2 separate regions of the Homo sapiens genome follow, and region 2 is linked to region 1. A link means that fine-mapping ties the variant in region 1 to the expression of a gene that starts in the linked region. Tissue or cell type: whole blood. Region 1 holds a variant in brackets; the other region holds the start of a gene. All regions are shown on one strand. Distances are from middle to middle.

Region 1 (8,103 bases):
TGAAATCCCATCTCTACTAAAAATACAAAATTAGCCGGGCATGGTGGCGCATGCCTATAATCCCAGCTACTCAGGAGGCTGAGGCAGGAGAATCACTTGAACCCGGGAGGCGGAGGTTGTAGTGAGCCGAGATCTCACCATTGCACTCCAGCCTGGGCGACAGAGCGAAATTCCATCTCAAAAAAAAAGAAAAAAAAAAAAAAGAAAAGAAAAACCACTATTTTTAATTTTTGGATTTACAAACTGATTGCAACTTACATATAAACTCAAAATATGTTTTACACAGTTCAAATATACATGAACTATTCCAGGAATGCAATCGACATGGAAATTGAAGGAAGATGATGATACTTGGCTTTGTTCAGAACTTTCCTGAGAGTTAGTCAACTTTGTAGAATGTCACGTCATAGACAGCAACATGAGGGGTGGTGTGTGGGTCTCAGTGCAACACACCTGTGTCAGCCTCCCTGTGACGCCAGGCACAGGTGTGTGCAGGTCTCATCACTGCATTCAACTGCTGGTGTACTTGGTCTTGAGTATTTCTATATCAAAATTCTTATTATGTTACTATAAACTACCTGTATTTTATTTTTTAAGGAAATGTTATATTGACTCGAAATTATGTGCGCTGGTTGACTTTCTCACCTATGCATTTCATTTCAGGCTAGTAAGGAAGTTAAGGAACTTGTAAAAAGACAGGGTTGAGAACCACAGCTTCAGAACTCCAGTGTGGATCTCTCGTCTCTCCATCACACTGTATGAACCAGCCCCGGCACAATTCAGAGCACAGGTCTGGGTGCCTGGTGCTCAGGCCATCATGAAGATTTGGATGGCATAAAGTTAGAGATCAAAGCCTAACTGATTACTTAAAACACTATGTTTCCATCAAAATTAACTCAGACAAATTATGGAGTAGACTGAAATTACCATGAAAGTTTACGGTAAGACGGCCACCTTCAAAGAAGGCTTTAGCTTACAAGGCTGCTCCTGGCCGGGCCCACAGGCCCCAGGAGCCAGCACACTGTCCTCTGCACTCGGGGGACCTGGCAGACAAGTCCAAGAAATGCTGGGTGCCGACTGCTTCTCTCAGCTATGGCTGCACTGTTCTCAGTAAAGGTCTGAGTTTATGCAGGTGCAGACTGTCAAGAAAGGAGTCTGAAGACCCAGCCACAGCCTCCAGCTTGGGCTCTGTCACCTACAGTTATGTGAGCCTGGATAAGTTACTCGGTTTTTGAACCCCAGCCCTCATTAAAGAAGTAGGAGGGGACGTAATCTTTAAGAGCTTCCTTCCCCTCTGAAATTCTTTGGGTTCATGCCAGAGGTGAATTATTTGTACACTGAGATTGTCCACAGACTGTGTCTGTTTTGCTACTGGAAATCTCCAGGCTTTGCTTTTCAGAATAATAAGCTTCTTTAAAGTCCTTCGCATCCTAAAATAGCAAACGTATTAATCGGGAACAAAATGATTGATGTTACTTTATTGATGACTCACACATTGACCTATTCAAACCTCACAACACAATCTTGGGCTTAGCAGCTACTCCCACTGGCGCTAAGAAATAAATACGCTATACAGTATCTTCCATGCAAGTGAACTTCTACTCTTGCTGTTAATACATTTCTTGCTTTTCCTGAGATGAATGAATCTTCATATTTCCTTCAATTGCCTCAACATGATGGAAATACAAGAACCATGACTACCACTAACAGAGACGTGCGGGACTGAGAGGCGAGGGCGGCTGGGCCTCCCCTGTGCCGTTTCCTCTCCAGGTGACAGGTTTCCCTCCAGGCAGCACGTCTGGGCTCCACTCCCTTCACCTTTGCCTGCTCTGCTCAAGACTGTCCTACAAACCCCAGACCTCTAGGGTTTCACAAAAACATTTAAATTGTTTCCTCTGAGAAGAAGGCTGAAAGCTCCACCAGCACCAGGGCAGCACACAGCAACTGACAATCTTTCCTATATTCAGTGGATATTCCCTGGAACCAGCTATAAAAGAAACAGCAGCTGTCATGTTTATCCTCCATGAACTTATCTACTTGGATGAGGTAGGGGAGGAGTTACATCATACCCAGAAAAATAAAAAGGCTTAAATCACAGCAGCTCTCAGGTGTATGCCGACATAAGCAGTAGTTAACATTTTAGCATGGTACAAAAATAGCAAAACAAGTTTCACAGCTATTTCATTTCTACCATTATTTTCCTTATGTAGAAAAGTAAAGCTCATTGGGCCGGGTGTGGTGGCTCATGCCTGTAATCCCAGCACTTTGGGAGGCCGAGATGGGAGGATCACTTGAGGTCAGGAGTTTGAGACCACCCCGGCCAATGTGGTGAAACCCCATCTCTACTAAAAATACAAAAATTAGCCGGGTGAGGTGGCAGGCACCTGTAGTCCCAGCTGCTTCAGAGGTCTGAGGCAGGAGAATCGGTTGCACCTGGGAAACGGAGGTTGCAGTGAGCTGAGATTGTGCCATTGCATTCCAGCCTGGGCAATCAAGCACGACTGTCTCAATAAAAAAAAAGAAGGAAAGTAAGTTCGTTCTTTGAATGTTCTCTTCTGTCTGGAAATTACCAGGCAGAGAACAGAAAAGTTTGACAGAGTGAAGACTTCCCAGTATGCATTCAAGACAAGGACTTCTGTCCTAAGAGGCAGCTTTGGTAAAAAGAAATCCTTCAGCCCCAATACTGGGGTATGAGACAGCAGGGCTGCCAAGAAAAGCTGACAACAGCGACAAAAGCAGCAGCAGCAGCCGTGGCAGCCACAGCTATATCTTGCACATTTACTACCTGCCAGCCCCTGCCTGCAGCATTGCATACAGTGGTGACAGTTATCAGTACCAGTTCCGAGTCAGCAGGCCTGGGTCTGAACTGGCTCCACTGCTGACTAGCTGTGAGGGCTTGGAAAGTCCCTGACCTTTCTGAGCCTCAGTTTCCTCTTTATCTGAAAAACTGAGAGAAAACGATCTGCTCCCCATGAGGTTACAGCAAGGGTTAGAGAAGACCTTCACATAAAACACCAGGTGGGCGCAGCAGGGGTTTGGTAAATATTAGCTACTTTCACTACTTAGTGTCTTCTTTGACAGCTACTGACCTAAGAGTATAAATCCGGTTCAGAGAAGTTTAGAAGCACGATGAGAAGACAAGCATGCTAAGGCACCCACCTAGCAGAGAAGCAGGAAAAACTGGGGAAACTTCAGAGGAGGGGGACAGAGGTTCTCAACCCACAGGGAAAGCCCACTCCTTTCCCTAGGAAAATCACACAGCCACGTGCCACATACAGTAAAAAAGACAGAAGGATCACAGGTGGCGTTGCTTTGATCATCTTCATTACACAAATAAATGAAACATTTTGGTTAAAATTAAGAGTAAATCTTCATTATAGTGATTTAAGATAAATTACTTCTCTACTACAAAGTAGTTATACTTTAGATTCAAGGGAAAACTACTTACCTAGTTTTAAAGTTGTAAAGTTACAATCCCAAGGAGAAACCACTGGAAACACTGGCCCTTTCCAAAATGAATGAATGAGTCTCGGAATACATATAATTTCTGTTGCCAGGTGTGTGTGTGTTTTGGTTTATTGTTTTGGAATCTGGCCTGGGGCAGGGGGATTATACTACTGGTCTATAATCAAATACATGGCAATTTTGAATGATTAAATCTTGCATGTAGTCAAAATATTTAATTTGGGAGAAAGAAACGAATTTACTTAATTTTATCTAGGTAGTCTGAATAATAAAAGTTCTAGTAAGTCCATTCCATGAAAACAAGCTTCTTTATTTAAAAAAAAAAAACAAAAAACAAATTTGGGCGGCCTCCAGTAATAACAGTGAGGTAATAAAAATCCTCTTCTCCTGTCCCATGTCTAACACGTAGTGAGATGTAATGGACTTACTGATTGGTGAAGAGGTTGGTAATCTAAACATTATGGCCTCTGGGGCTTCAAGATCACTCCTTTAAATACGAGCAGATATTCTGGAAGCACTGGCATATGAGTAACCAGTCATAAACAATTCCTTTGCTGAGTCACACAGCCTGATTTTTCGGGGATAAGAAGTTCCTCTTGGACATTGCCTTTTGAGGACCAAACATGCTGCACCAACATTTAGTCTCACAATTCTGTAGGGATTGGATAAGAATCTCACTATAATCAGGTAACTCTCCAATCAACTTCGCTGAAACACCGTTCTGCAACTATAAATAACTTGATTTCCTGTGCTCAGCATAAGTGGCAGTTGAGACTGCAGGGTTTTTTGAAATTTGCTAAGGAGGCTTCCGCTGTGGGATATTAACTCAGGCTGAACAGAAACTGACTCTTAAAGAAAAAGGGAAATTTAGTCTCCATCTTTGCCCCAGTAGGACACTC[T/C]CAATACTACTAGAAAAGACCTACCTTACTATATTTATGTCTTACCTGCCCGGGGAAATGACATGCCTAAAACACACACCATATGATTCCACGCTCCACCATCTCAGACTGAGCTAGAGCAGGGCCAGCCCGCCTCGTGCCAACTGATTCATCCCCATATTGGTCAAGACTCCACTCTCCCACACCTGGGGACCCTGGCCCAGGTACCTATAATGAGATGGGACTTGGGAGACTGTGTGTCCACGCTCTCCCCTAACAGCCCTTTCTTGGGACAGTGCTGGTCATTTAGAAGGGCTGAATGCTAATCAGTATGTGGAAAGAGAGCGGGGTGACACAAGCCATCGCAAACACAGGGAAGTTACAAAAGCTGCAGAAATGCACAGTGTCTCCACTGTCCGCATCGGACCCTCTCCTACAGCTCCAGGGCTGGTGCCCACTTGCTGAAGAAGCCCAGGCTCCCACTCAGATCCTGCTTTTGTCTTCTAGTTGAGGTGGAGCTTGCCAAATCTACTTCCTCTGACCAACCCGGCTCTCCTCTGCATGGGTGCGGCCCCCAGTCCCTCCTTTCCGCAGGAGACCCATCCCTGAACCCACGGACACAATGCAGAGCAAGAACTGGCACAAACCAGTGTGAAACACCCACAACCACTTTCCTGTGCCTATACCCAGCCCATGGCCCAGGGCAGCCGCTGGGTGACGCCCTACCCCCCACCCATGATGACCCCCAATTCCCATCACCACTCAGCACATTTCCTTCCCTACCTGAACATTAGCCTCTTAACAGGAACTGCATTTTGCTTTTGTTCACCATGTCTCACTCTGATACAGTTTTTGCTACCATTTACCAAGAAAAGCTCCTACAGGTTCACAACTTCTCTCTGAAAACCCTTGGGGCCATGATTCAGAATTCAGCATTTTTGGACATTAGAAACGTAGTAAGATGCATACACCATATATTCTGGTACAACCCAGAGTAGCAGCCCTTAATCAAAGACATCAACAAGACTGCAGAGAAACGTAAGAAAATTCACACTCAGAGGGATCAGTGAAGACCAAAACTAGCCCCCCATTGGACAGGGCAAGTCTCACTGCCAAAATTCTGCCACAAACTTATAAAAACAAAACAAAACACAAACCTTCCGGTCTTCAAAGCTTATTGGGTTCTGGAACTGGGGGTGAGGGACAGTGGGCCTGGGCTGATCACATAACTACTCAGTTGGACACAGTCCAGACTTTCCTCTCCCTTCCTCCCGGCAGCATCTCGAAGTCATCTGAACCCAGACCCGCCCAGGAGGCTCCCAGCCTTAAGTAATAGACCCTGTAGCCAGTGCCTTAGCTGCTCCAGGTGTGCCTCTACCTACTCCTCTGATTAGCCTGTCCCTAGTTTCCTCACATCCTGTTCTCAATGTTTACTCTTCCCTTCTCCAAGGACTCTAAGTCCAGCAGGCAGCTCTTCACCTCCATCCTCCTCCTGCCATCTATGGTGTCCCAGGCTGCTCCTCAGAACACTGGCACCGCTCAACCACATTCCCACCCTTCCTTCTTTCAAGAACCCTTCCCTGATGGTGATTCAAGGGTCTCTCTTCCCAGGCCCCTAGGAACTAATTAGTTGAAGGGGTAAAAACCGGCTCCAGAGGGCTGGCCCACTGCCAGAGTTTTAAACGAAGTCACAGAAAAACCACACTAAAATGGACATTTAAAAAACAGCAACCATCTGACAAGCAAAGAACTGGCTTTTCAGTATGAGTTCATCAGACTCTACTTCTACACCTCTCTCTGGCATTTCCTAATAAGCTCTCCCAAGGTCAAGGCAGTCTGATTCATCTTAAATCTTACACACACACCCAGTAGATGATTAATTTCTACCTGATGAAAGAGTGATTGTTTGGGGCTCATACTTTTACCAAGATCCCACGAACACCTGATTAAGTGGAAAGCTAGGGTTTTATATTTCTTTTCCAAAGTGCACCCTTTCACTTTTATTCCCATTCATGTTCAACCACAAGCTGCATGAAAATGTGTATTTGCAAACCCTCTCCGCCTCATCCCCTGCCCAATTTTAATGCCAAACTACAGCCGTAGCCCCACGACTGCATATTGAGCTGGACAACGGCAAAATCCTAGAGGCAGGATCCTGTCCGCGCTGGGCGGACCCGGGAGACTAGCCAAAGTGGATTTGGCGTCTGGAGTCCTCGGCGGAGGTGGTCCCCAGGTGCTGAGCGGGTTGAGTGCTCCAAAGCACCCCAGCCGCTCCCCGGTGGTTCCAACAGCGGGTGAGGGCACCGGCTCTGGCCACCCGGTCCTTGATGCTGTATTTTGTAAAATAGCAAACTAGCAGCTCCCTGTGACTCCAGGCCAGGCGCAGACCTGGTCAGAGCCTGTCTGCAGCCCATCACCTCGGGCGGGGAGAGACCATGTGCCTTTTCGTCCTTGGAGGTGGCGTCCCACAATAAAGCGTGCTTCCTAGCGCATGAGGGACGCCGCTCGCCGGGCCACTCACGGACCCGCGCCCACTGCGCCCGCTCCCACCGCGCTGGGGTCCCGCCAGAGCCCACCCCACGCCTCCCGGGCACCTGCGCCTGCCATTGACCTCGGAACGAGCTGGAAGCCCCTGAAACCCCGCCGCAGTCACGAAAGAAAGTTTCGGAAGCGCTTTCCTCTTACCAGCTTCTGCGCTTCCGGGCTCAAACAGTCGATCTCCCGGCTTTGAGCGGCCGCGGGGCTGGTCATCCTGCCGGGCTCGGCCCGCTCCACCCGGCGGGAAATGCTCGGGGACCGCGCCGGGAGCCCCTCGCGGGCCGGGCCAGGGGGCGCGCGCTCTGTCCGCGGAGACGGAGCCACTCGCCGCTAAGTGAACGCTCGCGCTTCCGGGGCCAGGAGCCAGCCCGCCGGGGAGCGGCTCGCGGCGCTGGGCTCGGGCGCGGCCGACAGGGGCGGGGCGCAGGTGGCCGCGGGCTGAGTCGGGCTCGGGGTGGAAGGGCGCCGGGGAAGCGGGACTCGGGCGCCTCCGCCCGTCCCACGGCCCGCCCCGCCCCCCACGCAGTTCCGCCTCGGAGGGGCCCTCCCGGCTACGCCCCGCCCCGTCCCCGCCCCATGACTCGCCCCACCGCCCCCGCCCCATGACCCGCCTTCCCCGCCCCCCTGCGCCGCTCCGCCTCGGAGGGTCCCTCCCGGTTACGCCCCTTTCCCCACCCCCACCGGCTCCGCCCCACCCAGGCCCCGCCCCACGGCCTGTCCCGCCCTTCCGCGCTCCCTTAACGCGAGCCCCGCCCCGCCCCCCGCGCTCCGTCTCGGAAGGATCTTCCTGGTCCTGCCCCGCCCCTCCCGGGCTGTCCATCACCACCCCTCCGGCCCCCGCCGGAAAGAGGACCTGGAGGAAAAGACCCCTCAGGCTCCGGCCGCAGCTCCACCCGCAGGGGCCGTGGGAAGCGGGCGCTCCGGGGAGGATGCCGCGCCCAGTAGGGGTCGACCCGAAGAGGGGGTCCCCTCCGGGGGGGGACCTGCCCGGGGCTGGGCGAGGGTATGAGTTCCCGGCTCCCCCACATCCATCACCCTCAGGCCACGCTGAGCTTCCTGGACGCGGAAGCCTAGGCCCCAGCACCGCTGCACCTGCCGGCCGGGCACCCCACTAACGCGGCATCCCGAGAAGGGCCGACTTCCAGGACGACGCAGCTGCGTGCACACAGCCCCCCTTGGCCCGGTGCGGCGGCCCGCAGGGGAGAACGAGCTTGCAGGGTGC
Region 2 (8,103 bases), 67 kb after region 1:
ACCTCACAAAATGGTTACTTGATGGCTGCAGGCTGCCTTGGGGGCAATGCAACCCCTTCTCCACAACTGGAGTCCTTGGGGGCTGTGTGACCCCTTCTCCACAACTGGACTCCTTGGGGGCAGTGTGACCCCTTCTCCACAACTGGACTCCTTGGGGGCAGTGCGACCCCTTCTCCGCAACTGGACTCCTGTGTGGCCGTGGCTCAAGTGAAAGGCGGTGGCTGTGAGGCCTGAACCAACAGCACCCGCAGGCCCACGAGTCAACTTGGGGCCGGTGAAGCAGCCGGGTGGGGCAGCAGTGCCCCTGCCATGGATCAGGGCCCGAGGCCGCAGGCCACAGAGGGGCCAGCTTGGAGAGGAGGCTGCAGAAACAGTTATGGGGGGAGGGCCTCCGTCCTGCTGGGTGAGGAAGGGGTACCTATGGCACCACCAGGGGATAATAAGCTCACCGCACTGTCTCAAGGCCCCACGGTGAGTTCCTAATGCAGCCTGCGCAAATGACTGTTCCTGTTGGGAAAAACATTCTTCATTTGAGAGCAATACTTTGAATTGCATGGTGAGACCAGTATCGCTTTACTCAGCTGCAGAGTGCTGAATGAGAAGTTTGGGATGCTACCAAAATGCACCAGTAGAATGTGAAATGCGGTAGGAGAGGAAAATCTATCTGCGTTGGAAACACCCCTCCCCAGAAGTGGGAGGCGCAGCTCATGCCTTTGGTGCTAATGAGCTTCTGCAAGTGCGTACTAAACCTTTCTCCTGATAACATCCCGCCTGAATTCCACTGCAACAAGAGAGTGAGAAATAATTGACTTGCGATAATACAGCATTTGCAAATAACTCCCTTTACTATACACGCTTGCCTAGAGTTTAAACCATCACATGGAAGCAGGACACCGGCTGCAGAAGCAGAAATGCACCCTCCAAAGGCTGCCCCCACCACGAGTCCTGCTTCTACCCAGAAGAGTGCAAAGCCCTGCCTGCACAGGGCAGCCTAGCTCTTCCCCTCGCTCCAGCGAACTGGAACCCACGTCCCTGCCAGGTGACTCAGGCTTCCCAATGACCTCAGCCCAGAATTTTCCACTTACTCTCCAGAAGGCATGTTCTTGGGTGCCAGGCCCAAGTGGCAGCCCACTCCCTCCCACTTCCTTGAAGCCTCCCCAGTTTCCATTCAGGCCCCCACCTTCCCAAGTGTTTCAGGGAGGCCGGCTCTCCCCAGTCCCAGGATGAGTCTGACAGGTCACAGGGTAGACCCACCCCCCTTTGCCACAGGCACTGAGCCCCTAAGTCCATGGTCCTTGTCAAAGAGCTTGGTGCAGGAGTGGCCAGACAGACTCATGAAAGTTTACCAGGGAGATACTGCTAGCTCTCTGGAGAGAGCCACCAGAAGAGACGGTGTGTGGGCTCCACAGTGGCAGCCCGGGAAAGCCAAGGCCAGCTGGCCTCCATGAAGCAAGTCAGCCTGAGGATGAGGCCACCCACAGAGGATGGCCCAGCCCAACCAGCTGCGCAGGTGCTGTGGGAAAAAGAGGCCGGAGCCACTGGTGAGGCTGGCGGGGAATCCTGCCCTGCCTCCGGGCTTGCTGTGCTCCAGCCAATATACTTCCCCTTGTCAATGTCAGTCCAGTCAGGGTTTCTGTCCCAGCAGCCAAAGCATCTTGACTGGTACATACAGCCTTCAAGAACTCAAAATGCCACTTCCTCCAGGAAGCCACTTCTGAGACCACTGGCCGGCTGTGATTCTCTCTCATGTCCAAACCTTCAGAACACTGTCTACGCCCTTTTTATATCAGATCCCTTCCTGTCTTCGGTTAGCATTATTGATCTACAGGTGTCAACCCCTTTCTGACCCAACTCCTGGAGGGCAGGCAGGTCCTCGCCGGGTTCCTCCCTGACTCTCCAGTCTCCCCAGGACAGGAATTTGGATACCATGGCTTGTATCTGTTGAGTCAATGAGTGAATAAGAAAGTACTGAACCCAAGACGATTTTGTTGATTTCTATAAGAACCCTGATGAATTCAAGGAGTAGATATTTGCCATTTGAATAGTGATTTTCATTTTCACAGTTGAGAAATAGAAGTTAATTTGTACTAAAACATAAGATGTCACACCTGCTCCCTCCAACCCTATCAATCTGTGCTACTCAGCACTAGTAACAGCTGCACCTACGGCTGGGTTTTACCGGGAGGGGCGTGTAAGAAGCTCTCATATTTACCCACCGCCTAGTTACATACTTTACATTGCTACCCACTTTCTTTAATTCTGACAGCCAGGGGAGGTTTCTTCTTCTCCATTTTAGAGACGAGAAAACAGAGGCCCAGAGAAGAGTGAGTAACTCACCTTCCTAGGATGGCACAGCTGGCTAAGAACTATGTCATTTGAAAGCCCAGCTCTGACTCACAAGTCTATCTCTGTAACTCCAACTGCATCTCCCTCGGTGGGAGGGAGGACCTCAGGGCTCTCAACCCAAGGAGTGTTCCCTTGCCTTCCTTTTCAATCTATTTTATAAAAACCAGCAGATAGGCTGGGCGCAGTGGCTTACGCCTGTAATCCCAGCACTTTGAGAGGCCAAGGCGGGAAGATCACTTGAGGCCAGGAGTTTGAGACCAGCCTGGCCAACACGGTGAAACCCCGTCTCTATTAAAAATACAAAAATTAGCCGGGTGTGGTGGTGCGTGCCTGTAATCCCAGCTACTGGTGAGGCTGAGGCAGGAGGATCTCTTGAGCCTGGGAGGTGGAGGTTGCAGTGAGCCGAGATCATACCACTGTACTCCAGCCTGGGCAACAGAGTGAGACTGTGTTAAAAAAAAAAAAAAAAAAAAAAAAGAAGAAAGAAACACCAGTGGATAAAAGGCAAACTCTGGAAATTTTCATTCTTCTCATTCTTCTGCCCCATAACCACTGACATCAAGACAAGGCTTGCGATTCACTGGCCACCTCTGGCCCTTGCAGGGAACACTTGTAAGGCACTGTGGTCAAATGCATACATAAGTGACTGTCTTCACAGGAGGGAGTTATACTCAAGCTACTATATTTAGCAAATGTCTATATTTAGCCAAAGGTCCTTTAAATGCCTTGTACTTCTTTTGTTTATTAATTAATGTAACAGACATAGACAAACACCTAGTATGTGCCTGGCTCTGTGCTGAGCTCTTGGGATACAAAAGTAAGATATTTCCTGTCTGGGTGTCACCTTCTACAGGTGGACAAATAATGATAAGGTATCCTGACTGCCATGCCAGGCGCGGGCATGCCATGGAGGGCCGTGGAGCCAGGGAGACTTAGGCCTGGTGCGATGTGAGAGGGCTGAGTCTGGAAGGTCTCCTGGAGGTCACAGTGGGCTTCCAGGAATGAATAAGGGTTTGCCTGGAAAGCCCTTTTCTGTATCATACAGAGAAAAACAGAAGTCTTTATTCACTCAGTAGTCAACAAATACTGAGTGACTGCCACATGTCCGTAAGAGCAAAATCAGGTATTTACAACTACAAACACCTAAGGATTGGTTACAGAGTAGATCCCCCAGAATATCTGACGGATACAGCCAGACACCACAGTCCAAATGGCTTGGAGGTGTTTCCTGTGGGAAGAATCACATGTGGAAAAGCCAACACGGAAAAGAACCTGTAAGGCGGGTTACAAGGCAGAGACTTTCTTTGCATTCATACACCCACCTGGCACACAGTTCAAATGGTACAAAGGGAACACAGTCAAAAATTAAGCTTCCTTTGTCCCCCTGGGGCCGCAACCTATTGGCTCCCCTTTTCCCAAGCTGCTGCTCTCTGTCCCTGTACGGCTTTCTGGATGTCATGTACATTCTTTAGCCTTAAGGTAGAATCCTTGCGGAAGGAAAAAAAAAAAGGCATTTGTACAAATACCCATTCTAGTGCGCCTTCAATTTGTCACAGGTAAAGTTCATCACCAAACATGATCTTAGTTACAATAAACTCTGTCCAGGAAACTTTAATGAAGACGTTTCAGTGTGCCTGGACCCGTTTCCAGGCTCAGTCCTGAAAGAAAAATCACAGTGATCCCCAAGTTCATCTCTGAGCTGCACCTTGAGTGACATCGATGGATGGATGACAAATGGTCACCTGAGCGACTCGGCCATTTCAGCAGGGCCATGTGGCCTCCGGCGACCGTCCACTGCCTCCAGGTCGGGCCTAAGCCCCCGCCTCCTCCCATGCCGCACAACAAAGCGGGGCGCTCGCCCCCACCCGGCCAGCCCGGGCCACCTCGCGCGCTGGCGGCGCCCGGCTCCTCTCCCGAGGGCGCAGCGGCCGACGGTGGCCGGGGTGGGGGAGGGCGCGCAGCGTCGCGGGCTGGGCCCGGGGCTGGAGAACGGGTGCGGGGTCCGCAGGCCTCGGAGATCGGGGCCGGGGCGCAGCGCCTGGGGATCAGCGCCCCGGCGCGCGCCTGCCCGGCCCACCCGCCTGGAGCCGGACGCGCAGTGGCACAGACGCACAGCGGGACAGACGGACGCCGGAGAGACCCTGACAGCCGTCCGGCCCCCGCGCCCGCCCGGCGCCCCCCGGCTGCCCTCCCGGAGCGCTCACCTCCCGCGCGATCTGGTTGAGCGCGTCGTCCTCCGCCGTGAGCCGCTCCCGGTTGGGGAGCCGCTTGCGCCCCGATCCCTGGGTGCCCATGTCCATCGACCGCGTCGCCCGCAGCTGCCGCGGGGCCCGTTGCTCCAGCCGCTCGCGCCGCCCCGGCCCGGCCCCGGCCCCGGCCCCTCCCTCCGCCGCGGCGTCATGGCGTCAGCGGGCGCTGGGCCGGGGACGCGGGGACGCGGGGGGACGGGGGCCGCGGGGACCCGGGGGAAGCCAGAGCCGGAGGTCCGCAGCGCGGGCCAGGGACTGCAGGGGCCAGGGACGGCGGGGCGGGGGACGGGGGCGGGGGGCGGAGACGCCAGGTGTCAGGGACGATGGGGGTCCGATACCACGGGGACGCTGCGGATGCCCAGGGCCGGGCACGCGGGACCTGAGGGACCGGGAGCCCCGGAGGGTGGACTTTGCGGGGACTGTTTGGCGGGCCGGTAATCGCGGAGCGACGCGCGCCAGGGCGGTGGGCACCGGTTGAGTGGGGACCTGAGCGGAGAGCGGGGGGGTAGGAAGGCTTTCAGAGGCCTGAGTTGCCTTGAGGGGTTTGCACGGAGGGGTGAGCACAGGATTTGGTTCAGCCTGGCGCTCCCCATTCCGCGGTGAGTCGGGGTGGAAGTCCCTCGCCGGGGTGAGAGCTAGGCTCTGGGGTCAGGCCGAGAGGTGCTCGGATCCGCCCGCCACCGCCGCTCCTGTGACCTTGGCCAGCCTCCTGGGCGCCGGCTTCACAGCGGCATGGTGTGGATGTGTGCGTTTCTGTCTTTACACGCGTGTTCTCCGTGCTAGCATCCATCCTTCTCCCCGCTGTCTGCCCCCTGAGATCAAGGACTTGTCACTTCTCTGGTGGGTCCCCAGCCTCTAGGATCGGGGCAGGTGCGTCGCAGCTCTCTCCTAGTTGTTGAAAAAGTAATGAACTTACCTGTGCTCTCTGAAGCTCACAGTCTATGCTCCAGAGGTGGATTTAAAAGTAAAGCAAATCGGAGGATTAGGTAGGGGTTAAAAGCCCCTGCCTAGGGCACGGCAGGAGCACCGGGTGGGAAAGTTACTGGTGTGTTTGGGGTATGGGGAGAACTTCAGTGTGGCTGGACCTGGGGAAGGATGGGAGGGAGGGTAGTGATGGTAGAGGAGAGGAGGCTGTACTGAAGTCACCTGTGATTTTTTTCCCCCAGTGATAAGGACAGTTAACATTTCGGTGTATTTCCCACCAAGTGGTGTGACCAGATTGCTTTGGATTCTTAAGGAGGTGGCCTGGAAGCTGTATGAAGGTGGGAAGAGGAAGAGGGCCCTTCCACCCACAGTGGCAGGGAAAGCTGTTGGAGGTTTCATTGCAGGGAAAAGACAGCGAGTCCAGTGACATGGGAGGGAGGGCAGATCCAGGTGACATTGCTCTGGGTGCCTGAGCTGACGCAGGTGGGTTGGCAGGGCTGACTGTGGCATTGTTCATGACTGAACTCCGGGAGCAGAAACTGCACCTGCACATTGTAGGCACTAAGGAAATAGGTGTTGACTGAATCTTCCAGGCCATATTTACATTACTTCAGAGGCCATACTCCTTAAGTGACATAGTCCTCCTTGGGGGAAACCTTGAGCCGTGGCCACTTGCACTGCCTTGGTCTTGCTGGTGGCTGCTCACTGTTTCCCAGCCCCTGGGGCACTGTGGGGACTGTGCGTCTTTGCCGAGGCTGGTCCCCATGAGTTCACTCATTCCTGCACCCACACCTGCTGCCTGCCAGCTGCTGAGCTGGAGGCTGGGGCATAGCTGTCCGAGAGGCAGACACGGCTGCTGCCTCTCAGGGCTGACTTGAGATGCCTGGAGCTCCTTAACTAAAGCCATATCCAAGTTCCAACGTCTCCTTTCTAAAAGAAGTCTCCCTTTGCTCCCTGTCCTTCATTGGAACTTTGAGCCACTTTTTGCTAACACCTAAATCCTCCATCCTGATGTGTTGAGGCCAGGAGGGCAGGCGCTGACCCCATCTTCCTCATCTTTAAGCCTTCACCAGGGACTGGCTGTGCCAGTTGCTTAGTGGAGTGCAGTGGTTGAACTTGTGGAACAGAGTTCAGTTCCCAACCCTCCTCCCCACTTTCCCTGTTGGATTGTTGTCCAGAGACAGGAGATTCACTGCCGTGGGGACTGGCCAGAGGTGTGTCTGAACAGCTCCCGCTGGTAGACAGTGTTCTCGGACACTGTGGTGAATTCAGCTTCCTGCCCCTCCCCCATCATCTGTCCACTTCCAGAAAAGAGCCGCCTTTCAGAAATCATCAGAAACAACATTGCTGGGTCCTCCCATGACCCCATGACATAACAACTTCCTGGCTACAGTCCTCTTCCCCTGGCGATGTGCTCTCAGAGTGGACCGGTTCTCACTTCAGAGTCAGTTTCCGCCTCTAAATGGAAATACGGGTGCCCACTGTCTTAGTTCCTTTGTGCTGCTGTAACAGAACGCCTTAGACAGGGTCATTTATAAAACCACGGAAATGTATTGTTCACAGCTGTGGAGGCTGGGAAGTCCAGCATCAAGCCTCCAGCAGAATCAGTGTCTGGTTGAGGCCCATTCCTCACAGATGGTGCCTTCTGTGTGTCATCTCATGGTGGAAGACGGGCTCCCTCCAGGCTTTTGTGTAAGGGCACTCATCGCGTTCATGAGGTCTCTGCTTCAGGACCTGGTCACCTGCAGGCCCCACCTTGCATTGAGGGTTAGGTTTTGACATATGAATGGGGGGGCCACCGCCATCCAGACCATGGCCTCTACCTTGTCAGGGTAGGGACAGTATTCTAGGCAAGAGCCCTTCCAGGGCTTCACACACAGGCAATCGATCAATCATCCTTACAGCTCCTGTCCTCAAAGGCCCAGGTCTGGAATGAATGGTGAACAGCAGTTCCTGTCTGGGCAGAGGGGAGCTAGACAGAGGTATCAGGCAGCTTGGTGGGTCTTCTCCGTGCTTGGGGTGCCTCCTGGAGGAAGATAAAGACCTGCAAGACTCCATCATGCTGATCCATGGGTTCACCGAAAAATTGTGGCTTTTCCTCCACCCTTGACCGTCGGCCCTCCCTGCGTGGAAGTGCATGAGCCTGTTTCCACTGAGAAGACTGGCCTCTGCCACCAGCACTACTGACCCCTCCCATCTAGCCCTTTTCCTATTCCAGATGGTGACACTACCCACCAGGGCTTACTTCAGAGCAGGAAATTGAGAAACTATATCACAGATCTGATGTCCAGGGCCAGAGAATTAACATGTTCATCTCCAAGCCTGGTACCAAGTCCCTTCACAAAAATACAGATGCCACCTTCAGGAAGCCTCCACGAGAAAGTGGAGGCAGCCAGGGAAGCCTTGGCAAGGGAAACCACACAGCGGCGCCGTCCCCAGCGCAAGTTTGCCTTGGTTCAGGAGCTCAGTGGGCAAGCCCTGGGGGCTGGCTGGGAAAGGAAGTTGATGAGCAGCTACGGAGGGGCGTCCAGTCTGCATGAGGACTCAGAGCTTCTCAGGCAGAGAGCCATCTGAGCCATCATGT

Evidence for each region. PIP is the estimated chance that this variant, and not a neighbour inherited with it, causes the effect.
Region 2: it holds the start of LRRFIP1, and the variant in region 1 is fine-mapped to the expression of LRRFIP1 in whole blood (TOPMed, PIP above 0.99).

Annotation. Positions count from the first base shown.
Region 1 is chr2:237,691,447-237,699,549 of GRCh38, reverse strand. The region is part of intron 1 of LRRFIP1 (LRR binding FLII interacting protein 1); the gene reads right to left. It overlaps LOC124906128 (a long non-coding RNA gene), which reads left to right and starts at 7,754. Exons shown (of 2, transcript XR_007088145.1): 1 at 7,754-8,103. RefSeq lists silencers at 1,144-1,193, 7,032-7,571, 7,582-8,103 and enhancers at 2,257-2,466, 4,789-4,968, 7,595-8,103. The variant T/C (reference allele first, on the strand shown) is at 4,365.
Region 2 is chr2:237,624,188-237,632,290 of GRCh38, reverse strand. LRRFIP1 (LRR binding FLII interacting protein 1) reads right to left here and starts at 4,704. Exons shown (of 24, transcript NM_001137550.2): 1 at 4,551-4,704. The coding sequence starts at 4,646. RefSeq lists enhancers at 234-795, 798-1,297.